Linked DNA regions of Homo sapiens. The protein of the gene in region 7 interacts with the protein of the main gene of each other region in a pairwise test. Each region holds a gene or a part of one and is shown on either strand. Other genes may lie near its edges. The genes, in order: GPX8, RASGRP4, LDLRAD1, CYB5R3, OTX2, GSC2 and BNIP2.

Evidence for each region.
Region 1: the proteins of BNIP2 (region 7) and GPX8 interact in binary tests that used the Homo sapiens proteins (3 or more experiments, as listed by UniProt).
Region 2: the proteins of BNIP2 (region 7) and RASGRP4 interact in binary tests that used the Homo sapiens proteins (3 or more experiments, as listed by UniProt).
Region 3: the proteins of BNIP2 (region 7) and LDLRAD1 interact in binary tests that used the Homo sapiens proteins (3 or more experiments, as listed by UniProt).
Region 4: the proteins of BNIP2 (region 7) and CYB5R3 interact in binary tests that used the Homo sapiens proteins (3 or more experiments, as listed by UniProt).
Region 5: the proteins of BNIP2 (region 7) and OTX2 interact in binary tests that used the Homo sapiens proteins (3 or more experiments, as listed by UniProt).
Region 6: the proteins of BNIP2 (region 7) and GSC2 interact in binary tests that used the Homo sapiens proteins (3 or more experiments, as listed by UniProt).

Annotation. Positions count from the first base shown.
Region 1 is NC_000005.10:55,163,171-55,165,483, forward strand, and holds part of GPX8 (probable glutathione peroxidase 8), read left to right. Parts: intron 1-884; coding exon 885-1,048; 3' UTR 1,049-2,313.
Region 2 is NC_000019.10:38,419,720-38,423,219, forward strand, and holds part of RASGRP4 (RAS guanyl-releasing protein 4), read right to left. Parts: intron 2,435-3,500; coding exon 2,250-2,434; intron 1,482-2,249; coding exon 1,376-1,481; intron 1,252-1,375; coding exon 1,189-1,251; intron 544-1,188; coding exon 412-543; intron 295-411; coding exon 141-294; intron 1-140.
Region 3 is NC_000001.11:54,011,687-54,015,186, reverse strand, and holds part of LDLRAD1 (low-density lipoprotein receptor class A domain-containing protein 1), read left to right. Parts: intron 1-822; coding exon 823-951; intron 952-2,906; coding exon 2,907-3,044; intron 3,045-3,500.
Region 4 is NC_000022.11:42,625,393-42,628,892, forward strand, and holds part of CYB5R3 (NADH-cytochrome b5 reductase 3), read right to left. Parts: intron 2,890-3,500; coding exon 2,760-2,889; intron 2,297-2,759; coding exon 2,213-2,296; intron 1,998-2,212; coding exon 1,912-1,997; intron 1-1,911. UniProt on the Homo sapiens protein: Catalyzes the reduction of two molecules of cytochrome b5 using NADH as the electron donor.
Region 5 is NC_000014.9:56,800,480-56,803,979, forward strand, and holds part of OTX2 (homeobox protein OTX2), read right to left. Parts: intron 1,877-3,500; coding exon 1,256-1,876; 3' UTR 1-1,255. UniProt on the Homo sapiens protein: Transcription factor probably involved in the development of the brain and the sense organs. Can bind to the bicoid/BCD target sequence (BTS): 5'-TCTAATCCC-3'.
Region 6 is NC_000022.11:19,147,493-19,151,709, forward strand, and holds the start of GSC2 (homeobox protein goosecoid-2), read right to left. Parts: upstream 2,801-4,217; 5' UTR 2,792-2,800; coding exon 2,533-2,791; intron 2,425-2,532; coding exon 2,171-2,424; intron 1,604-2,170; coding exon 1,499-1,603; 3' UTR 1-1,498. UniProt on the Homo sapiens protein: May have a role in development. May regulate its own transcription. May bind the bicoid consensus sequence TAATCC.
Region 7 is NC_000015.10:59,668,821-59,672,320, forward strand, and holds part of BNIP2 (BCL2/adenovirus E1B 19 kDa protein-interacting protein 2), read right to left. Parts: intron 2,495-3,500; coding exon 2,363-2,494; intron 543-2,362; coding exon 456-542; intron 171-455; coding exon 72-170; intron 1-71.

The DNA.
Region 1 (2,313 bases), on a different chromosome or scaffold from region 7:
GAGTGGTATAAATAGAAAAAAAATCTACATTTCTTACATAAATTAAGATTTATCAAAAGGATATCATGGCTGGGCATGGTAGCTCATGCATGTAATCCCAGCACTTTGGGAGGCCAAGACAGGAGGATCACTTTAGTGCCCAGGAGTTCAAGCCCATCCCGGGCAACACAGCGAGACCCTGCCAAAAAAAAAGTTATTGCTTTTCAAAATAAGGTGATTATTCACTTTGGGAGGCCAAAACCCTATCTCTACTCAAAATACAAAAATTTGCCTGGTGTGGTGGCACACACCTGTAATCCCAGCAATTTGGGATTACAACTTTGCTTCATTTTTTTTGGCTTTTAATTTTATTTGACACAGAGTTTCACTCTTGTCCCCCAGGCTGGAGGGCAGTGGTGTGGTCTCAGCTCACTGCAACCTCCACCTCCCAGGTTCAAATGATTCTACTGTCTCAGCCTCCCGAGTAGCTGGGATTACAGGTGCACACCACCACACCCGGCTAATTTTTTGTATTTTTAGTAGAGATGGGGTTTCACCGTGTTGGGCAGGCTGGTCTTAAACTCCTGATCTTAGGTGATCCACCCGCCTCAGCCTCCCAAAGTGCTGGGATTACAGACTGAGCCACGGCTCCCAGCCTACTTTGCTTCATTTCTTGATACTAAGATCACATACTAGATGAGTAGACTCATAGGTGAAGTCATCAAGTATATTGAAATCTGGTTACTCTAACCTTGAGTTTCACTTCGTTTGGGTGTTTTGTTTTTTATATTATGACAGTCCTAGAACTTGATACTAAAGTTATCATTTATGCAGATACTAATAGAAGTGAAAATCTTGACAAAGAATAAAATTATGCTCATGAAAATATGTTCTGGATATTTTAGATTCTTCAAAGAAGGAACCAAGGTGGAATTTTTGGAAGTATCTTGTCAACCCTGAGGGTCAAGTTGTGAAGTTCTGGAAGCCAGAGGAGCCCATTGAAGTCATCAGGCCTGACATAGCAGCTCTGGTTAGACAAGTGATCATAAAAAAGAAAGAGGATCTATGAGAATGCCATTGCGTTTCTAATAGAACAGAGAAATGTCTCCATGAGGGTTTGGTCTCATTTTAAACATTTTTTTTTTGGAGACAGTGTCTCACTCTGTCACCCAGGCTGGAGTGCAGTAGTGCGTTCTCAGCTCATTGCAACCTCTGCCTTTTTAAACATGCTATTAAATGTGGCAATGAAGGATTTTTTTTTAATGTTATCTTGCTATTAAGTGGTAATGAATGTTCCCAGGATGAGGATGTTACCCAAAGCAAAAATCAAGAGTAGCCAAAGAATCAACATGAAATATATTAACTACTTCCTCTGACCATACTAAAGAATTCAGAATACACAGTGACCAATGTGCCTCAATATCTTATTGTTCAACTTGACATTTTCTAGGACTGTACTTGATGAAAATGCCAACACACTAGACCACTCTTTGGATTCAAGAGCACTGTGTATGACTGAAATTTCTGGAATAACTGTAAATGGTTATGTTAATGGAATAAAACACAAATGTTGAAAAATGTAAAATATATATACATAGATTCAAATCCTTATATATGTATGCTTGTTTTGTGTACAGGATTTTGTTTTTTCTTTTTAAGTACAGGTTCCTAGTGTTTTACTATAACTGTCACTATGTATGTAACTGACATATATAAATAGTCATTTATAAATGACCGTATTATAACATTTGAAAAAGTCTTCATCATTTTCAGTATTTCTCTCTGCATTATTTTTTAGAAGCAACTCAAATTCTGTAATCATAATATTACCAAGTAAGTCAGTCTTTATTTTTGCGTGAAAATCCCAAGTGTAGAAAAAAGGACATGAGTATAAGATCATTTAACTTGATTCCTTATAGGCTGATTTGGGTTGCTAATGTATTCGTACTAGATTAGCCACTTGGGAGGAATTCAATGCTGCATCATTCTGATAGCTGAAATAGTAAAAGTCAACTCCAAACAGCCTAAATTCTAGTATAAAAAGGGGGTGATCATACAAGTCCTAAAGTGTAGATCAGCAGTCACTGAACCTCTTAGAGTCACAAGGCATTTCTTCTCCCAAAGTCATGACCTTTATATTTTGTTAGCCTTATAATTGACTAACAAAGCAACCTGCCAAGTTGGTGAAGGTTAATTATTGCCTCATGAAATATACATTCATCGCATAAAAGAATTAAATAGGAAGATGGCCAAAAATGTAAAAAAGTCGTATAAATTTGTCTAAGAAGAAAAAGACCCAATTTAAGTAGTCTGTGACTTGACTCCCAAATTCTG
Region 2 (3,500 bases), on a different chromosome or scaffold from region 7:
ATACAGGTTTGAGTTTAAGACTTTGAGATCTCTGCCGAATGACCATGCAGGTGTCCTCTCAGTCCTACCTTCCCCCAGCCAATCCCTCCCCTACCCCAGTGTCTCCCCTGCTTGGGACGGGGATGGGAGGGGGTCCTCACCGTGATAGCCTGGAAGGACCGGAACTCCAGGTAGGTGAGGTGCTGAGCCAGCTCCCCCGTCTCCAAGTGGTCGAAAAGCAAGGACACTTTGCGCTTTTTGCCCAGGCCTGGGCTGCTCATTGGGAGTGGGGGGCCAGGGCCACCAGGGCTCAGGCTGGGGGCCAAGAGGGGCAGGGTATTGGAGTGGCTCACAGTTGAGGGCTTGGGGATATAGAGGGAGATGGCAGAATGGCGATGGGGCAGGGAAGAGGGGAGCACAGGGCTGACTCACAGGTCAGAAGAGTCTCCCAGTCTTCTCTGGGCTGAGTTGCCCTCCCGGGCCACGGTGGCCCAGAAACGACCTATGACTTCTTCTAGCTGGGGATCCTGGTGCATCACCTCAGGGTGTCGCATCAGCCAGTACCTGAGAGTGGTTTGGAGATGGTGAGATGAGGCCGGGGGTGGCGAAGGTCTCTACAAGGGGTATTTTGGGCTGAGGAATTTCTAGGTGCTGAGCTAGGGGGTCTCTAAATGTGTGTGGGGGTCCCTGGAGGGTTGGGGTTTGGAGGGGCACCAGGCTTGGAGAATCTCTGGAGTAGGATGGGGGTCTCTTAACAGAGACTGGGGGGATCTGTGGGAAACAGACCGGGGAGTCACTTGGAAGTGGGATTATTGGGAAGCAAGATCGTGGAGCGTCCTAGGAACTAGACTGGGGGCTTCCGGGGGTGAAATTTTTGGAGGGACAGAATGAGGGGGTCTTATGGGCTAGGCTGGGGTCTGTGGGAGGTAGAGATTTTGGGGATCAGAGTTGGAGGTCTCTGGGCACCAGCTAGGAGGGTCTATGGGATCTGGTTGGTGAGGGGGGTCTCTAGGAAGTGGGGGTTCTAAGGAACGGAACTAAGAGGGTCTTAGGAACCAAGCTACAGGTGTCTCAGAAGTGGGATTTTGGCCTGTGGGGCTGGTTGGGTCTGTGGGAACTGGCCTGGGGATTCTCTGAGGAATGTTTTTTGAGGGGGAAGCAGGATGGAAGTCGTGGGTCCTGAGAGTGGGGATCTCGGCCCAGCCCTACCTGACCAGGTGACAGATCTGCAGCCGTCTCAGCTCCTGGGTGTCCCCTGTGGCCTTCTGGTATTTGAGTTCTGGTCAAGGCTCTGTTTTCCAGGATCCATGACCTGCCTGCTCCCCATTCCCATTGCCCAGGTTCTCACGACTCTGCCCTCTGCCCTCCACCCATAGCTCACAGTCCTGGAGGATATGAGGTCAGCAGGCGGGCAGCCAGGTCGGCGGACGGCAGCACCCAGCTGTGCATGGCCAGCACCATGTTGAGCATGTGGTCCTCGTGGCACAGGCTGCCAGCTGAATCTGGGGTGGAAGGAGGGGTACTCTGTGACAGAATGGCCCTCAAGCAATGCAGAGCGTAGCTCCAGATCCTGCCGGACCACCTGGTTCAAAGACCAGCTCTAACGGTGATCCCCAGCATGACCTTGGACAGGCAACCTAACCTCCTGTGCCTCAGTTTCCTTATCTGTATTGTGCATGGGGCAGCATCACCCCTGGCAAGTCTTGCTGAAGATTGAAATAGCACCAGACTGGCCGGGCACAGTGGCTCACACCTGTAATCCCAGCACTTTGGGAGGCTGAATCGGGCGGATCATATGAGGCCAGGAGTTCGGGACAAGTCTGGCCAACATGGTGAAACACCGTTTCTACTAAAAACACAAAAATTAGCTGGGCCTGGTGGCATGTGCCTGTAATCCTAGCTACTCGGGAAGCTGAGGCAGGAGAATCTCTTGAACCCAGGAGGTGGGGGTTGCAGTGAGCTGAGATCAGGCCACTGCACTCCAGCCTGGGTAACAGAGCGAGACTCTGTCTCAAAAGAAAAAGAAAAGAAAAGAAAAAAGATTTATATAAATATATATAATATACACATATATTATATATATATATAAATGTATATATTTCCATTTCAGGAAAGAAGAAATGCAGGTGTTTCTGTTATCTCTAATGTAGTGATTGAGTTTCATTCCACCCAGCCCTGTTCTCATTTTACCTCCAAAAACTGAGGTGGAGAGAAGCGAGTGCTGAGCCCGAGGTTAGGGCCAGGGAGGCTGCTGGGGAGAGGACACTTACCGAAGGACTGGATGCATTTCTCCAGCAGCTCATCTTCGCTGCAGCCGCCCTCACTCAGCAGGCCCAGGTTCATGGAAGCCATGACCTTGCTGATTTCCCGAGGGCTGGGGCATGTCTTGTGGCGGCGCACTTGGCGGGGCCGGCCTCGCCCTCCTATTTTTCCGGTGCATTCCTGGTGGGACTTCCTGTGGGCACAGCCCCCAAGGAGTCATGGGAGCACCTTCTTTCGGACAGACCCTAGAATTCCTTTTGACTCTAATGCCCCAAGGCACCACGGGAGAGGCTTCCTAAAGGCAAAGCCCCAGGGTTACCCCTGACCTACCAGGGACTCTAGAGAGAATCCCCAGGAATATTCCAGATCCCTGGGGGAATCATGGGAGCCCTCTCCCACAAGCAAACTCCCAGGGATATTCCTGCTCCCTTCAGGGAATCAGAGAGGAAGATCCTCAAGACCAGGGGTCCCCAGCCCCTGGGACACAGACAGGTACCAGTCCGTGGCCTGTTAGGAACCAGCGGGCAAGCAAGCACCCCCGCCTGAGCTCCACCTCCTGTCAGATCAGCTGGGGCATTAGACTCTCTTAGGAGCATGAACCCTATTGTGAACTTCACATGCGAGGGATCTAGGCTGCGTGCTGTTTATGATGCCTGATGATCTAGGCTGCGTGCTGTTTATGATGCCTGATGCCTAATGCCTGATGATCTGTCACTGTCTCTCATCACCCCCAGATGGGAGCATCCAGTTGCAGGAAAACAAGCTCAGGGCTCCCACTGATTCTCCATTATGGTGAGCTGCGTAACTATTTCATTATATATTACAATGTAATAATAATAAAAATAAAGCACAGGATACATGTAATTAACTTGAATCATCCCCACACCATCCCCACCCCCTTCCACAAAACTGGTCCCTGATGCCAAAAAGCCTGGGGACCGCCGCTCAGGACTGCTCTGAATCTCCCAGGGAATCACAGTAGAAGACCCCTGGGACCACTCAAGACCCCTCAGGGAATCATAAGAACTCCTTCCCCAGGCATTGCCCCCAACTTCCTCTTGACTGCTTCCAGGGCATCCTGGAAGAGACTTCCTTTTGGCAGATCCCAGGATTACTCCTGGCCTACCAGGGACTCGGGAGAAGACCCCTGGAATCTCTTCTGTCCTCCCCAGGCAGAGGCATGGGAGGACCTGCCTTCAGGAATTGCCTCCTCAGGGCTCCCGTTTGGTCTCTAACACCCTCCCCTCCTTCCTCCCACA
Region 3 (3,500 bases), on a different chromosome or scaffold from region 7:
GGTGCAGTGAACTAGATTGCACCATTGCACTGCAGCCTGGGCAACAGAGCCAGACCCTATCTCTAAAATATAAAAAATAATAATTAAAAAAAGCAATAATAATAGCTCATACTCAACACTTACTCTGTGCACATTAACTCAACAAATTCTAATCCTCTCAACAAAGTCTAAGGTAGCTATTATGGTACCCATTTTCCACATGAGGAAACTGAGGCACAGGGAAGTGAAGTGGCTTACTCAGTGTGGCCCAGGTAGGATGCGGTAGAGCTGGGATTCCAACCTGCATCCCAGCAGACTCCAGAATGGACAGTCAATTGGGATCGTGGAAAGGGCACGGGTTTTGGCATCAAACAGGTGTGGATTCACACGCCAGCTCCACCCAGGGTGACATGAATCTTTTCTTCCTGAGCCCTAGTTTCCTCATTGATAAAATAAAAGGTTGTTTTGAAAAATAAAGCACGCTTATGAAGGGCCTAATGGAGCTTCTGCCCCAAGGTGGGGGCTGGACATGCAGGCGTCCATCTCTCCCTGCGTCCTGAGGAAGTCTCCTGATGGCGGGTGGGAGGGGAGGGCTGTCCGCCTCTGCCATTCAGCCAGCTGTGGGCCCCTGGCCAGGGTGGCACCTAGTGGGGTGGGCCCACAGGCAGAACAAAGAGCATCAAGGAGGGCTTGGGAGCTGCTCCTCCAGGGAAGCCATCCCTGCTCTGCTCACCCTCGTGGGGGAGAGGCTGCTTGCAGCGGGCAGGGCGGAGAGGGAGCTCCCTGTTCCTAGCGCTGGCCCCCTATCACCACCACCCCCGGGCTTGTTTCCCCCCCACACAGCAGGCGGCGGCCACCTCTGCTGCTCACGTCGCGGGGCCTGCCTCTCTGCCTCTCTGCTGCTCCTCCTGGCAACTGTGGCGGCCCTCATCGCCTTGGTCACCATTCTTGGACTCCCATCATGCACCCCAGGTCAGGGCGGCCAAGAGAGGGTGGGTCAGACCCGGCGGGGAGGGCATGGGAGGGCACAGAGAGATGAGGGAGCCCCGACCTGCCTGGCTTCTCCACCAGGTGACTTTGGACTAATTCCTTAAGGTGCATGCACAGACACACACAGACACCTGCACACACACTGACTATACCTGTTTCTGAGCCTCCATTTGCACATCTGTGACATGATTATTGAGAGGACCCAGCTCTGATGTCACCTCCTCCAGGATGCCTTCCTAGACCCCCAGGATGGGTTACGAGCCTCTTCTCAGCCCCCCAGTCCCTACACTTCCTCTTCCCCTGGCCTGGCCACCCCGGGGTGGTGCTATCCAACTGTGTGCCCATCTCCACCACAGGGGACCGGGTGACATCCCATACATGCCTGCAGCCCCAGCTTCAGGGGTGAACAACCCCAACACAGTGCCTGCCTTCAAGGAGCTAATAACTGTTCCGAGAGCCGTCTAGACGTGAATACACATTACAGCGGGGTCCCTGGGAGCCCTGAGAGTCTAGCCCCATTGAGGAGTCAGGGTAGGAACAATGGGTATTAGTAGTGGGGGGATGCCAGGAAAAGCATCCCAGGCACAGGGAACAGCATGTGTGGAGCCCTGAGGGGTGGGAGGAAGCAGGAAGAGAAGAAGAGACTGCAAGAGGCCAGTGCACAGGAAGGGCTGGAGTGACAAGTGGGGCCCAGTGCCAAGGGCCTCACAGGCTGCACCGAGAAGGGAGGTCATAGTCCAGGAGCCACAGAAAGGGGATTAAGTTGGGGGCAAGTTGGGGGCAGGCTGATGTTTCTGAAGGATGGCTCTGCAGCCAGGCAGGGTGGGTATAGAGGGCTGAGGTGGGGGCGGGGGCTGAGATTCGCAGCGCTCCCCCTGCCCTGCAGGAACACAGACCCTGAGGTGGATGAATACATGAGCAGCTGCAGTCAAGAGCCTGTGTGCACATCTGTGTGTTTAGCGTGTCTATGAGTGTACGCAGCTGTGTATGCATGTTCATGTCTGTGTGTCAGTGCGTGTGTGCACATCTGTTGTCTGTGTATCTGTGAGTGTGCACATAGGTGCAGCAGTGTGTGTGTGAGCATGTGTTCATGTGTGTGTGCATCTGTGTGTGTCTGTGTCAACATGAGTGTCTCTGAGAGTTGCTCCCCCCCGCCGCCTCCCCCACACACACTAGCTGAGGCAGCCCAGGGACTGAGAGGTGGTTCACGCATGCACAAACACAAATGCACAAACTGGCTCCCATCCCCAATTATGCACACGTATACACATGTGGGGCCAAGGGGTTCCTCCTACCTTGTCCGTAGGTTTCTGCCTTTTAATTCTTTGGGGCAGCCCTAGGAGTGGGTATTCCTTTTCTCCTCCCATATGGGGGGCTAATGATGACGTGTCGCAGGGGTGTTTGGGGAACTATAGAATAAAGATATGAAAGTGCTTTGCAGTTGTGCCCAGATAGAAGGAATTATGACATATGGCCCTCCAGCCAGCCCAAATATATTGCTTCTGACACTCTAACCTGGTACCAGGAGCTCCACCATTAAAACCACTTCACTGAATTGAACATTGTCCTCAGAAGCTTCCCATGACACTGTAAATAAGTTTTCAATACAAGAGAGAACCATTACTAGTTCTGCACATTTTCTGTTCTATGTTTCTTCACAGAGATGCTTTCATTTAATCCCCACAACAGTCCCACGGGGTGTGTGCTATGATTCCCATGTTGCAAACAACCTGAGACTCAGGGTGGTCAGGTCATCTGCCCAAGATCAGGCAGCCGGCAGCGGGTACAGCTGGGGCTTGAACCCCATTGATGGCGCTGGGTCCATCCTCCCCACTGCCCCAGCCCCTCAGGCCAGCTCTAGGCGGAGTTCAGGTGAGGAAGGTTTGTCCTTGTGAGCACCACCCTTGACCCTCCAGGGCCTTTCCCTGCCCATTCAGGAGCCCAAGCTTGTATAACACTGACAAACAGGACAGGCTTCTTGTGCCATGACCAGAGGAGCTGCATTCCAGCCAGTGGGGTCTGTGATGGCGTTCGCACCTGTACCCACGGCGAGGACGAGGATGAGAGCTTGTGCCGTGAGTACCCGCTCGGTGCTGCCCCTCCCAGGGGTTCCCCCACACTCCGATGCTCTTGGCATCCATACTGAACACATCAGGCACCTTCAAGTCCCCATGGCTTTGATGCTCCAGTGCCTTCATCCAGGAACACCTGCCCCGACCTGGTCCCAGTCAGGGACACACATACATGCCCCCACTAAGGAATGCCTTCACCCTGTGCGTCTCCACTCCCAGAGAACCCGTATTCATCCCTCAAGGCAGAGTTCAAATGTTACCTCCTCCAGGAAGCCTTCCCTGACTCCCACACTAGGTTAAAGTGTCTCCTTTGGGCTTCCACAGTCCCTGTGATTCCCTGTGTCCCAGCCCTTGTCACACTGGTTGTCGCTCTTGATTGGCACATCTGCCACCCCCATCAGACTGTGAACTCCTCTGAGGCAGGCCCAGTCCGCTTGATATCGGGGCCCCAGTGCCTAG
Region 4 (3,500 bases), on a different chromosome or scaffold from region 7:
AGCTACTCAGGTAGCTGAGGCAGGACAATCGCTTGAACCCGGGAGGCGGAGGTTGCAGTGAGCCGAGATTCACGCCATTGCACTCCAGCCTGGGCAATAAGAGTGAAATTCCGTCTCAATTTTTTTAAAAAAAGTTATGTCTTCCTCTCTGAGCTAAAGTGTGTCTCATGCTTTAATCCTCACCACCATCCTTTGAGGTGGCCACCGCCGCGACCCACCTGACAGATGAACAGAGGGATGGAACCTTGGGGGGCTGCTACTCGAGGGTAGGGGGCTCCCAGCTCAAAACCAGGCACTGAGGTCACGGAGGAAGGTAGGAGAGGAAACGAGCAGCAATGACCCGACTGGCACGGTTCTCGGAGTGTAGCATGGGGACCCCTGGGGTTGGGACCCTGGAGAGGATCCCTGAGGCCAAATGGTTTTCATATAATACTGAGACACTGGTATTTTTCACTCTTCCTCTCTCAGTAGATGGGGCCACTTTCCAGAGGCTGCGTGACTGGCAACATCACACAGATGGGATGTAGAAACAAACACAGGAATCTAGCTGTCCTATGAAGCCAGACATTCCAAGGTTTGCAAAAACGTAAAACAGAATGATGTTTTCTAAAATAGTTTTTTAAAAATAAAAATAGGCTGGGTACTGTGGCTCACGCCTGTAATCCCAACACTTTGGGAGGCTGAGGCGGGTGGATCACCTGAGGTCAGGAGTTCGAGACCAGCCTGGCCAACATGGTAAAACCCCATCTCTACTAAAAATATAAAAATTAGCCGGGCATGGTGGCACACATCCTGTAATCCCAGCTACTCGGGAGGCTGAGGCAGGAGAATCACTTGAACCCGGGAGGCGGAGGTTGCAGTGAGCCAGGATTGTGCCATTGCACTCCAGCCTGAGGGACAAGAGCGAGACTTTGTATCAAAATAAATAAATAAATAAAACCCTGGTTTGCATCCTGGTTTCAGCACTTCCCACGAGACATGCACAGTCAAGCCCCTCCCGGAGCCTGTGTTCGGAGGTATGAGATGAGGCGACCACACTGCCCTCGCTACCAGCTGCAAAGATGGCCTGTACAGGTGACAGACGGTCTGACGGCCTCCACAGACTCTGAACCAGCACCACCAAGTCTCACTGCTGCCCTCTCTCCCTCCACACCAGCCAGCTTAGAATTTCTGGCTCTTTCTCCCCTGGGCCTGGCAAGGCCATCTTGGTTGGCCTTGCGGCAGTTTTCTGCAGCTGCGGGGAGGCAGGGTGGGGCAAGGACCCACATCCAAGGACCTCAGGCAAGCATCTTCTCCCCCAAATCTACGTCATCAGTCACAAAACACTAACCTGAAAAGACCTTGCAACAACCCAGTTTCATCAGCTCATTCTACAGATGAGGGAGTGAAGCTCAGAGAGGGAAAGTAGCTCGTCCAAGACCACACAGCAGGCCAGGGCGGGCAGGCAGGCAGTGGGCTCGTGGACAAGGATATGAATCAGGAGCCAGAGACACCAACATTCAAATCCTGCCCTGACACCCTGTAGCTCAGGGGCTTCGTGCAAATGTCTGGTCATTTGTAAGATGGGCCCCTCCATGTCCAGGCCAGCATTCTTCCCACTCTACCAGTGGGTTCCACACCGTGCTCATGGTGAAGGGAGTTCTGAGTTTTGGAGGAAGCAGCCAGGGGAGGGGGTGCTCAGGGAGCTCCCCGCAAGGCAGCCCCCTCAGCCAGACACAGGCGCTGCACCACAAAGCCTGCCCGCCGTGCTGCTGCCAAGGCCGCCAGTGCACAGAACATTCAGGGCCCCCCATCCCGGTCATCCCCAGAATCTCAGCAGAGCTGTGCAGACCCCTGGAACAGCACCTGACCAGGCCCGAAGTCCCCTCTCAGGGTAAGCTGAGTTTCCCCATCATGGGGATGCCCACTGACCTGGTTGGCAAAGAGCAGGTGGCACACAGTGTGGTCATCAGGGTCCTTCATGATGGCGCGGATCACCTGCAGCATCGGGGTGATGCCTGCAAAATAGCCGGCCGGGCCTCGCACGTGCTGAGCGAGGCCTGTTCACAGGCACCGCCCCGCCCAGGTGTACTGGGGTGGAGGGGCCAGGACCACTGGGCCTGGGCCCCTGACCTCTGGTAGCTCCCAGGCACTCAGAACCTGCGCCTCACCCACACCCCAACCCCACCCTTAACATGAGCCGCCGGACGCCTCAGTGGGGGGTTCCGTGTACCTGTCCCTCCCGCGATCATGCCCACAGACTTCACTGTCCTGATGATAGGGTTGGACTTTTTGTCAGGTCGGATGGCGAACTTCCCTGGGGAGAGAGAAGGGGTGAGGCCCGGCCATCAAACATGCCATGTGTGGTGGCTGGAGAGGCTGGAGAGGGGGCTGGAGAACCTGCCCCCACTGTGAGGTCCGAGGTAGAGGCAGCTGCCATTCTAACGCGAGCCATGAGGAAGGTGCAGGAGCAGTGGAGAGGCTGGGAACCCGGAGGCTCAGCTCTGTCCTCTTGCTTGCTTGTTTCAGATGCTGAGAAAGCCAAATAGAGGCTGGCAGTGGGTGAGACGTGGCCCCCAGGAGTGGCCTGTCTGCAACCCCTGTGCCAGCAACTTACCCCCTCTACAGCCAGGGAGACTCAGTTCCCAGAGAGGGACAGCTGGCCTGACGAGAGTCACCCATCCACACAGAGCCAGGGGCCTGCACCCTGCACCCAGCACGCCCAAGCTCTCCAATTCTCTGAGCCTGCCGTGTAACCAAGGGATTCCGACCCGAATCACCTTTGCCCTGGTAGACCAGCAGCCCACTGGGGCCCCGGAACTCAATGGTGTCTCCAATCTGCATGCTCTCCAGGTACTGAGACATCTTCCCTCCAGCGGGAAACTTGGGATGGGTGTCCTTGAAGTAAACCTGCAAGACACCCCCGCAGCCCTCAGTCCCCAGCTCCAGGTCTCAGGGGCGAGCTCTTGCCCACAGTGGGAGACAAGTGCCTCTTCTGCAGCTTCTTCTGAGGCCCACACATGGCCTTCTCCCGTGGAGCCCCATCCACCCAGCCGTCAAATCCTACCTGTCCTGCACCCCGTCCTTCACCCCGTCCTCCCAGGAGTCAGCCTCCACCTGACATATCCGGGGAAAGCAAACCACCAGCCTCGTGTACAAGGCCGACCAACTCCAGGGCTGGATGCACTCACATTTCACCAACTGTCTCTGGGGCCCCCTCCCAACGGGAGACACTGAACCCGTCAGCAAAGTCAAGGCTCTGGGAGGCCCACTAAGCCACACTCCTCCTGGTGGACACTCAGTCCCTTCCGTTTTGTGCTGTCGCTAAAAACCTCCCTCACTCTTGGGACTACTTCCTGCCCTGCACTCTCTAGGATTACTGTCTTGGGAAAGAGAAGGGCCTCAATCCGACACCTACAAAGAAATGGGGAGACAGAGGAGGAGCGGCTCACCCTGCCCAAGGAGTCTGATGGATGGAGAAGGGGAAGGTGGCTGGGGGAGGGACAGCGTGTACACAGTGC
Region 5 (3,500 bases), on a different chromosome or scaffold from region 7:
GTTAGGCTCTCCAAACTCAATTTCAGAGCAATCCTGATGAAAGTCACAAAAAGTCTACCTACCACTGTCATTCATATCTATTTTATGCATAGATTAGCAAAAAAAAAAAGTAAAAATAAGTTTGCTAATTTACTCTCTGTCCTAAGAAAAACGTGTTTTGGGGAGGAAAGGCTGAATGTAGGCTTCTTATTCATAAATAGCGGTGTAAAATTAAACTGGACCCAATGTTGTGCTAGAACCATTTTAATATAATTATACATATCTGCCAAATCCAGGAAGAAAAGGTTTATGCATATATAACTTTTCCATTTAACATCTGCAAGCATAAACGACAATGATCTCAGTTTAATAATTCATCAGGGTCAGAGCAATTGACCAATGTCTCTTTACTGCTAGGCTTACCAACAGTAAATTACAGATGAATTAGTGTCCTTTTGCTTCTCTTCTCTGACTCTCTTTGTCCAGAGACATTTTGTCGTAAAGTTTCAGTGCAGCTCACCTCCAGCCAAAGGTAATCTTTTTAGATCAGTACTCAGTTGCTCTGAATTTTGCTTATAATTATAACCTATTTAATCACAGAAGAACCCCTGCAGAGGTGGAGTTCAAGGTTGCATACAATAACAGGAGATCACAGTTTTGAAGTCTAGCACAGATTAAAAACCACAGATGTACCATTTATAAGACACACACTGATTGTCTCTTAAACTACATATTGACTCCTTATGAACATTATTTTTTAAATAAAGTAGTGCATCTAGGACAATCAGTCACACAATTCACACAGCCCTGAAAAGTTTTTTCAGTGCCAACTACCAGTTGGTCATGAAACGTGAATGAGCTTGAGACACTGTTCATTCCTAAGATTCAACCAAGGATTGGCTAAAACAATGGAACACCTCTGCTTAAGAAGGCTATGACCTTCCCTCCCTTCCTTCACAACTTAGTTTTGTTTGATTTTATTTTTGGTGGTGTTTGGTTGCACATGGCTAGAATGCTTTTGATCACTTTGCAAATCAGGATAACCAATGATCTAAAACTATGACAGGATCTTAAGCAGATTGGTTTGTCCATTTCATGTTGCTGGTTTGTAGGCCCCTCTAAGGCCCTTCGTTTTTCCTTCTATGCCTCTCGGAACTTTGATCAGATGAGTCTGAGCATCATCCCATCTAACTCTTTTAACCAATGCCTGGCTAAAACTGGAATGTCCAGCCCAGTATATTTAAAAATCACCCACAAAAAGAGGTTCTACAGGTCTTCACAAAACCTGGAATTTCCACGAGGATGTCTGATCTTTATAATCCAAGCAGTCAGCATTGAAGTTAAGCTTCCAGGAGGCAGTTTGGTCCTTATAATCCAAGCAATCAGTGGTTGAGTTAAAACCCAAGCTTGAAGCTCCATATCCCTGGGTGGAAAGAGAAGCTGGGGACTGATTGAGATGGCTGGTGACTGCATTGGTACCCATGGGACTGAGTGTGGCCCCTGGTCCGGGAAGCTGGTGATGCATAGGGGTCAAATATGATCCACAGTCCATGCCCCCAAAGTAGGAAGTTGAGCCAGCATATCCTTGACTATAACCTGAAGCCTGAGTATAGGTCATGGGATAGGACCTCTGCATGCAGGAAGAGGAGGTGGACAAGGGATCTGACAGTGGGGAGATGGAAGCTGGGCTCCAGATAGACACAGGAGCACTGCTGCTGGCAATGGTCGGGACTGAGGTGCTAGAGGGGGGAGTGAATTGGCCACTTGTTCCACTCTCTGAACTCACTTCCCGAGCTGGAGATGTCTTCTTTTTGGCAGGTCTCACTTTGTTTTGACCTCCATTCTGCTGTTGTTGCTGTTGTTGGCGGCACTTAGCTCTTCGATTCTTAAACCATACCTTGGAAGGGAAAGAAAATTCTTTAACTCGGTTTTGATAGTTCCTTAAGGACAAGAATGGCTCCCGTATTATAAATCTATCCTACATGGGCAGATCAGCTAAACACACAATTTCCCCTGCCACTGAAGACCTATTATGTGGTACTCTCATATAAACTCCTGGACTTGTAAGAAAGTTGGGGAGGCTCTGTCTAAAAACACTTGACACTGTCTTATTTCTTGCCCAGAATAACATTTAAGATAATCCCCCAAATCATATAGCTAAAAACTCTCCACATCACTTTCCTATCTTATTTCGCCTCTAACACACACATACACATAGACCCAGCTATATTTTGGAACACTCTCACAGAGGAATAGAATGTATCTCTGTCTTTTGGAGGGAAATACATGAGAAGTGAGAGAAAGCAATTCTGTTGTTACAGGCTAACAGGAACAGCCTAAATTCATTTACAGTTCATCTTCCAGGAAGCAACTGCTAATATAGAGGTTGGTTGGTTCCATCACCCTTCTGTCTCTCTTAGAAAGACTCACAGAACAAAGCTCCAAGGGGAAGACATGATCTTGTTGAAGAAAGAGGTCTGAAAGCCACTATTTGCTAAAAGCTTCTTTGTGGTAAAAGGAGTGACTTACATGCACTCTGCTTTGAGCTGGAGCACAGACCTGCTAGTCTCTGGGACTCGAGTCTGTGTTGTTAGAGTAGTGCCACTCAGCACATAGACTCAGTCTCCTGTGCTGTGTTTACTGACTTACCACTTCAACCCCCTGCTGCAATCTTGACAATTCTCTTTACCAGCCCTGTTCATGTTCTGCAATGAAGGAGCTATGATTGGTGTACGAGGGGGCTTAGAAGAGGAACTACTGGCATTTTCTGGAGGACAAATCCTTAGCTGAACTTTTGAATGAGCTCTCTGTATGGGTGCCGTAACTGTGGTAAAAGTGAGGCCACCAAGGCCAAGCTCAAGACCACCAACCATTTGGAGCCATTTGTTTTCTCCTAGTGAGGACTTTGGTTCAAGCCTTGCAAGTGCTAAAACTTCCTCTAACCTACTTTGAAAAAGCCCCTTTCCCAATTTGCAGCTGACACTGATGTCTGTCGCTTTCATAAACATATTCTAGCCGAAGGAGAGGCCCAGGTGTGTATGTGGTTTATGTGCTAAACACTTTGCAGAGAATTCTGTACAGGGCTCACTCACAAGGCAAGCTGGAGTTGACCTTCCCTCTCCAGTTTAAGGTCAAGTTTAGGGGAACTAAAACAAGAGGGGTGTCACTAGAGACATTATGTAGATATTTTATCTGTTAAATGGCTCAGAACTAGAAAATTCTCTTCAATCCCTAAGAAGTCAAGGAAAATACATTCTTTTTGTGTTGATTTATTTGGTAAAAGCACCAGCTGCGTCTATACCCTGACTCTGCCACCAAACTTAGTTATGACCTTGAGCAAGTCATTTACTCTATTTTTTCATCTGTAAAAATACTTGGACTGTCCAAGAGCTAAGCTGCTTTCACACGTACAAGTCCATGAGAATAGGAGAGGATTTCTATACAGAGGAAGGGAAGGGTTACAACACCACGTGACTACTCTTGAAACCTGCTCAAGGATGGGTCTCTCTCCACCAGCAACC
Region 6 (4,217 bases), on a different chromosome or scaffold from region 7:
GATGGCCATTCAACCAAGGAACTCAAGGGGCCTGGAGCCTGTGAGATGCGAGTGTCCCCAGCTGCAAGGGAGCTGACTGGGACACGGGCATGTCCACAGGTAGTCTGTTCAGTCCCCAAGGGCAAGACCAGGGTTCAGGGAGAAGGGCTTTGTGTGCATGCTAGGGGTGGAGGCGGGGATGCTAGGGACACCCAGCAGTGTCAGGGCAGTTCTGACTGGGGACACCATGCTTGCTTGGTGTTATCCAAGCTGGCCAGCCTTGGGGTGTCTGGGGAGCTGCAGCCCTGGCTTCTGCAGTCCTGCTTTTAGAGATGGACTTCATCTCTTGCAGGTAGAATGGCCCCATTCCCTGCAGGGCCTGTAAGGAGACAGAACGAGGTGCTCAAGCCAGCTGGGGGTGGGGATGTGAGATGCTTTGGACCCACTGTAGGGCCTACTTGGGGAATCTAAGGCTTCTTTCCACTGTGCCTTTTGCCATGGGCCAGGATAAAGAAGGGGAGGGCAGGCATCTTCCCAGGCAGCAGGGGCGGGGTCTCCCCAGTCCAACCTCCTCTTGCCCTACCCTAGGATGGCACAGATTGCTGTGAGGGAGTCCGAGCCCACAGCATGAAAACCCCAGGAGGAAGCAGGGGACCCTCACCCATGGGCAGGTTCACAGTAGCCTAGAGGCCAGGGCTGGACCCCAGGGGTCCAAGGCCACCATCCGTGGAGCAGTCCCCTCTGCTGGGGAGCACCCTGGTGCAGAGACTGAGGATCGCTGAGCTGTGCTCCTCTCAAAGACAGCTGTACCCTAAATACCCCCTCGCTGGGAAGGAAGAAGAAGGGACAGCTCCTTGTTGGGTGTGGGAGTGGAGCCAAGGTGGACTTGAGACTCTGGGCGGCTTCTGTGGTATTTGAAGTTGCTAGTTTCTCAGTATCAGCGCGAGGCTCGAAGGTGAAGGGACTGTGGAGGGGCTCCTGGAATCGCTCCTGCGACCTTCTTATTCTACAGGTCCAGATACCAAGACCCAGCCCAGGGCCTGGGAAGCCTGCAACGCCAGGACTGCACAGACACGAACCCCATCCCCTCTCCCGCTGGGGGAGGACGAGCCAGGTCAAGTTAGGTCAATGTCCACATTGAGAAGAGGGTGGCCAGCATGTCCCAGGGTGCGGAGAGACGCTCCACTGCGTAGGATTCTGGGTCCCGTGTTGATACGGGGTGGTTCCCCTCCTGCGGTGGAGTTAGTGTCTCTCGGGGGGTAGGGAGCTGAGGAAACTGCTCTATGCCCCAGCCCACCCCCAAGGGACTCGCCACTCCCACTGCCGTGGAACACCAAGCACCGGGGGCCCGTCCCCAGCGCCACGGCAGCACGAGCTGCAGGAGGCAAGGGCTGTGGAGACGGGTGGAGGCGGCCGGTGTACTCTCCCAGCTCCTTTTCGGGTAGACCTGTCTTCTCTCAGCGCCAACTCCAAAGATCCCAAAAAGGGTGGCCGAGCCCAGGGGCAGCTCCTAGAGTCATCAGCAGCTCCCCTTCGGGGACTTCTTGACGCCGGGCAGGAGCCTCGCGGAAGCCGACGCGCGCTTCTGGTGTCGCCATTTGGCCCGGCGGTTCTTGAACCAGACCTGGGGATGGGGGGAATGCTCAGCCCTAGCCCCAGGTCCTGCGTCCCACCGGCTCCCGAGGGTCCCACAGGGACCGAGAGGGGAGCTTCGCAACAGGGATGTGGGCGGACGGCGCTGTAGAGCCGACACCCGGGCCGCGGCTGCGCGCCACCTGCCCTTATTCGCTGCGGACAGACTCGGTGGGTCTGGACGCGAGATGGGAACCCCCTTAGTACCCGCCCCAGCCTCCAGCTGGCGGCGACCAGGACGCCCCTTCTTGGGTTGCGGGCTCTTCTGAATTTCCCAAATTCTGGACGTGAACGCGGGCCTCTTTCGTCACCAGAGGAAAGTGTAAAACAAAAGAAAAGAAAAGTAGCCCTCCGGTTCCTTTCCCGCGGCACCTCCCTGCTCTCACCCGCTCCTCATACCCCCGGACGCCCAGCGCCGTCCAGGGACCTCCTCCCTCCGGCGCGCCAGGGCGGGGCTTGGGCCGAGGCCGTCTTTGCAAAGGGCGCCCGCCCGCCAGGACCCCAGTCCAGTGTAGCCGCGGCCCGCGCGCTCCGGGGAAAGGCTGGGCGGGGCACTCACCTCCACGCGCTCCTCGCGAAGGCGGATGCGGCCGGCCAGGCGCTCGCGCGTACTCACGTCAGGATACTGGTTCTGCACGAAAAGCGCCTCGAGCGCCTGCAGCTGCTCTTCGCTGAAGATGGTGCGGTGGCGCCTCGTGCGCCGCTGCGAACCCGGGCCGACCGCGCCCGGGAGCGCCCCGGAACCTCCGGCTGGCGCACCCAGAGACAAGGGCACCGCCGGTCCCAGCCTCAGCGGCCACGCCAGACGAGCGCCTGCGGAGCGAGGGCGCGGTGAGGCGCGGGGCTGGGGCCAAGCTCGGCACCCACTGCGCCGCGCCCCGGGCTCCGCCGGGCCCCGCGCCCCGCTCCGCGCCCACTCACCCAGCCCGGCGGCCGCCTCTGGGGGCCCGCAGGGCGCCGCGCGGGGGCCGCAGCAGCAGCAGCAGGCGCAGGGCGCAGCCTCGGGCGCCCCGGGCTCCTCTGGCTTCGCGGGGCTCTGGCGACCGGCGGGCTGCGGTGGGCAGGCGGCCCGGGCCGGGAGGCTCCGCTCGGGCAGGCTGGAGAGGATGTGCTCGATGGAGAAGGGGCAGGGCCGCCCGGCACCCCGGCGGCTCGCCGCGCCCCCAGCCGCTGCCGCCATGCCCGGCCCGGCCGGGGCGCCGCCGCCGCGGGAATATATACGTCGGGGAGGGAGCGCGCAGTAATCCCCGGGCCGGGCGTCCAGTCCACGCGGGTTAATCCCGCAGCGCCGGCCGCGAACGCGCTAATCCTCGACTGCGGCGGCCCTGCCTCCGCGCGCGGGGGCCGGGGGCGCTGCAGAGAGGGCCCCCTGTGCCCCCCACCCCGCCCCGCGTCCTCCTGCCCCACCCGCGCCCGCCGCTCAAGCTGGCAGGGCGACCTGCGGGGAAGGGGCGGAGGGCCGCCTCGCCGCCGCCCGCGGGGCCTGGCAGCCGCTCGGAGGGCGCCCCGACCCTGGCAGCTCCCCAGAGCGCGGCGGTGCCTCCCGGCCCAGCCTCTGGTGGCTCCCCCTCGTTCGGCTGGGCCTAATTCCTCGTCCCCTCTGGGGCCCTACTGCGGCGGCTCAGCACGCCTGCAGAAGCTCGGCCTAGCCGCCCACCCGAAACTCCTGGACCGCAGCCTCCATGGGGCCCAGCACCACCGGCAACCGCACGATCCCGCCGCGCTCGGGTCCCGAACCTGCCCGCCACCTCGGAGCCAGGGTCTCATGGCCCTGGAGGGCGTGAGAGCGCGGCAGGAAGCCTGGGCTGCCGGGTGCCCCCAGTTCTCCGTCTCCTCACCTGTGTCAAGGAGACCTCCCCGCCCCTTCCGAGGCCCCTCCTCGGTGCTTCAGAGCCGCCTGTCCTCCAGCTTTCCCACTGGTCCCAGAATCCCCGCGAAAACATCCAACACTGCACCTCGCCCTTCCCCGCACTGTCACTGCCCCCCAGAAGCTGTGGGCTCCCCCTCCTCGCTCTCCGCCCAGGCCAGTCCTCTGGCCACACCGTCCTCGGTCCCTTCTGCCACAGCGCAGGTGACCCGCACTTGGCTACATTGTTTCACCCTCAGTGAAGCGGCTCCTGGCAGCGGGACCGTCACTTCAGCTTAAGACCCTTTCCTCTTGACCTTTGAAAATACAGTATGGGACTCATAGCACAGAGAAACAGACGGCCTGGCTCATACTCCGTTGTCAATTTCTGGCCGTGTGACCTCCATAGGCGTCTTCAGCCTCTGGGCTTGGCTTTCCCAATCTGTAAAGTGTAGTGACTAGGTGTGAGACGGTTAGAACCTGGCCGCCTCCCCAGGGCAATGCGTATTCCTGCGCTCCTCCCGCCGCCAGCCCCTCTGCAAGACTCTGCCATCCCCACTCTGCTATCAGTGAAAGTGCTGTGGACATCACTGTGACCGAACCTGCTGATTTAATTTCTGTCACAAGAGCTCCCACATAGGTTTCCCAGGGGTAGTCTGGAGGCTCAGTGATGAGCTGCCACCTCCATGAGTGGCTCTGTCAACCCCTCCTCCACCCACCTCTTGGTGGTAGAATGGCTGCCACAGCCCCACACTTTTCA
Region 7 (3,500 bases):
TGAAAAGTATTATCCATTGCACATCAAAATGTTAAGATCCAATACAATTAAGGAAATAAAACAAAACATACTGTTTTATGCATTCTGGTATGCCAACGTATTCCATGGGGACAAGTTCTGCTAGTTCTGCCAAATTAAACACGTATCTAATTTTTTGGCTGAATTTCGAGCTATGGAAGAAAATAAAAATAATTACTTCCATATTTCTGACAAATACAATGGATACAATGTTTACAAGATACAAAAATCATGTCATTTTGAATGTTCAAAACACAAAAAGATGATAAATGTCTGAGGTGATGGATGTACTAATCACCCAGGTTTGATCATTATACAATGTATACACATATCAAAATATAGCTCTGTATCCCATAAGTATGTATAGTTATTATGTGTTAACTAAAAATAAATAAATAAAAAAAATAAAATTAAAGTCAATGGCTCTCAAAAATTACCTAATAAATGGTCTTGTAACAGCCAGAAGTGTTCTGATAAACCAAGAAGGATGTACAATGATTAGGGATTTTAGATTTTTCCGTAACCTGGAGTTTAAAAAAAAAACACACACACACAAAGAAAATTAAAAATTTCTATAAATTCTAATGCTGCAAGTTTATACAAAATAATAGTTGAAAAATCTCACCCAAAAGTTCTCAATTAGGTGTGATACCCCTGTAGACAAGAAAATGCACTCTTAAATTCTTATGGTCCCTCCTACTGCTATGAAATGAACTTTACTTCATTTGGCCAGATTTACGTCCACAGTATAGCCTGTTACTAAATGTCTCCTAGCATACACATTCACTTGTCTTCAGGACTCTGTAAACAGGGAAAGAGGCCAATACTGAATGTAAAAGTAAACTATTCTCATTTTCCAAGACTAGGGAGAAATTGGTGCTAAGTTCTTCAAAACCATGAAAAGCACTGTGCAGGCAGAGAAGTGTGAGTGGAGAAGATGACCACAGGAACAAAAACAAATCAGATCTAACTCCTATTCTTAAGGAATTTAAAGTTTTGATTAAAAATTAAAGGTTTTATCCTAGACTTCTCCTTTTTAAATGACTAAATACTCTTTGTATTATGCATATTTCACACATAAAGTGAGATACATATATAATCATAAGAGCTAGCCAATGTCAAATTTAGATGTGAAGAGAAACCTATTAATGGGTCTGACTTGATTTAAATTAGCCACAGCAAGATCAAACCAATCGGAAGATCACATTCCTTCCATTAAGTACTGATGACTAACTCCCAAGACAAAACACTTCTAAAGCTTGTTCCAAAGAAAGATTACAACTAAATAAGCACCATTAAAAAACATAAATACTGAGCGCTGTGGCTCATGCCTGTAATCCTAGCACTTTGGGAGGCTGAGGCAGGTGGATCGCTTTAGTCCAGGAGTTCAAGAACCAGCCTGGGCAACATGTCAAAACGCTGTCTCTACAAAAAATACAAAAATTAGCTGGGTGTGGTGGCACATGCCTGTAGTCCCAGCTACCTGGGAGGCTGAGGTGGCAGAATAACCTGAGCTTGGGAGGTTGCCGCTACAGTGAGCAGAGATTGCACCACTGCACTCCAGCCTAGATGACAGAGTGAGACCCTGTCTCAAAACAAAACAAAAACAAAAACATAAAACATGCTAAGCACTATAAATTAGGCAAAACTCAATGTAATGAAATAGGAAACATACTACATTCTCCATCCTTTGCCAAGACGTAAATAATAGGAAAAAAAGTGTTCAATGTGGAGAAAATTGCATCTTATAAATAAGGAGAAAGTCTTCAATTAAATAAGGAGAAATATAAAGCTACTTTGTAAGTTTGAAGAATTAAGGTTATTCTTTATAGAAAAATCAAAATTGATTTCCCTCACAATATTCTAAAATGCTATCTTTAGAAAACAGAAACCTGCCATGAAATAAATAAATAAAATTTAAAAAATAAATGGTGTTTTAAAATAGCAACAGAAGGCTGGGCGCGGTGGCTCACGCCTGTAATCCCAGCACTTCAGGAGGCCGAGGCGGGTGGATCACCTAAGGTCAGGAGTTCGAGACCAGCCTGACCAACATGGAGAAACCCCGTCTCTACAAAAAATACAACATTAGCTGGGCGTGGTGGCGCATGCCTGTAATCCCAGCTACTTGGGAGGCTGAGGCAGGAGAATCGCTTGAACCTGGGAGGTGGAGGTTGCGGTGAACCGAGATTGTGCCATTGCACTCCAGCCTGGGCAACAAGAGTGAAACTCCGTCTCAAAAAAAAAAAAAGTTAAAAAAAAAAAATAGCAACGAAAAACAAAGTTTGATTTCCTAAAGCCATTATAAAATTTTTTCAGACTAGCTTTCAACTTGTATTTGTATTACCTTCTATCAATTTGCTGATAACATTTCCTGAGCCATCCCAGACTGGGCATTTTTCTTCGAGTTGTTGCACCATTTAAATAAACTATCATGTAGTTTTCTGCTACTAATAGCTCCAAAGTGCCAATAACATATCTGTAAAAAACAAATTAAGTTTAAGCCTTAAAAATCACTGTGCATAACTGAACTAGGTTCTCTAAATTGTACCATTATACAATTCCTTCCTCTCTCCTACAATGAGAGCAACAATGAAAATGCTCAAACCGCATTAGCTAGTATTACGATTATCTTATTTTTTAGAGATATATTTTGAAATGTTTCTAGGTGAAATGATTTGCTCCTGGGATTTGCTTCAAACTTGTAAACTGGGGGTTAGAAGTGGGAACAAAGTATAAATTGGTAATTGTTGAAGTGACTGATACATGAAGATTTGATATACTTCTCTTTACCCCTGTGTATGTCTGAAACTTTCCACAATACGGTTTTTAAAAACTGCACTAACCTGAGAAATAGAATGACCTTGTGGAAAAAGAACTGATTTGGCTCAATTATATTGGCCTTCTAGGGGTAAATGTAATTTAGCCACATGATTTTGAGACAAAAATCACTTCTTTACACTTAATGTGCCTGCAAATGTTAACATAAAACAGTTGGGACAGGTAAGGCATGGTGGCTTACTTGAGCCCAGGAGTTTGAGACCAACCCTGGCAACATAGTGAGACTCTGTCTCTACCAAAAATTAAGAAGTCAGCAGGATGTGGTGACATGTGCCTGCAGTCCCAGCCACTAGGGAGGCTGAGGTAGGAGGATGGCTTGAGCCCGTGAGGTCAAGGCTGCAGGGAGCCGTAGTTGTACCACTGCACTCCAGCCTGGGTGACAGAGTGAAACTCCATCTCAAAACAAAACGAAACAAAGTTGGAACAAATAATCTGAGATATATTTCCCAGTTTTAAAATGACAATTTTTCTCTTGAATTGGAAAACTATCGTTCCATAATATCAAAGAATAAGGACTCATCTAGTCCTGTATCTAGTAACAAATACTTTTACTTTAACCTTCATTCTGTTGTTCACAAACTTGCACGTGAAAAGATCTGGGATATTTATTTTTCTGAGACAGGGTCTTACTCTGTCACCCAGGG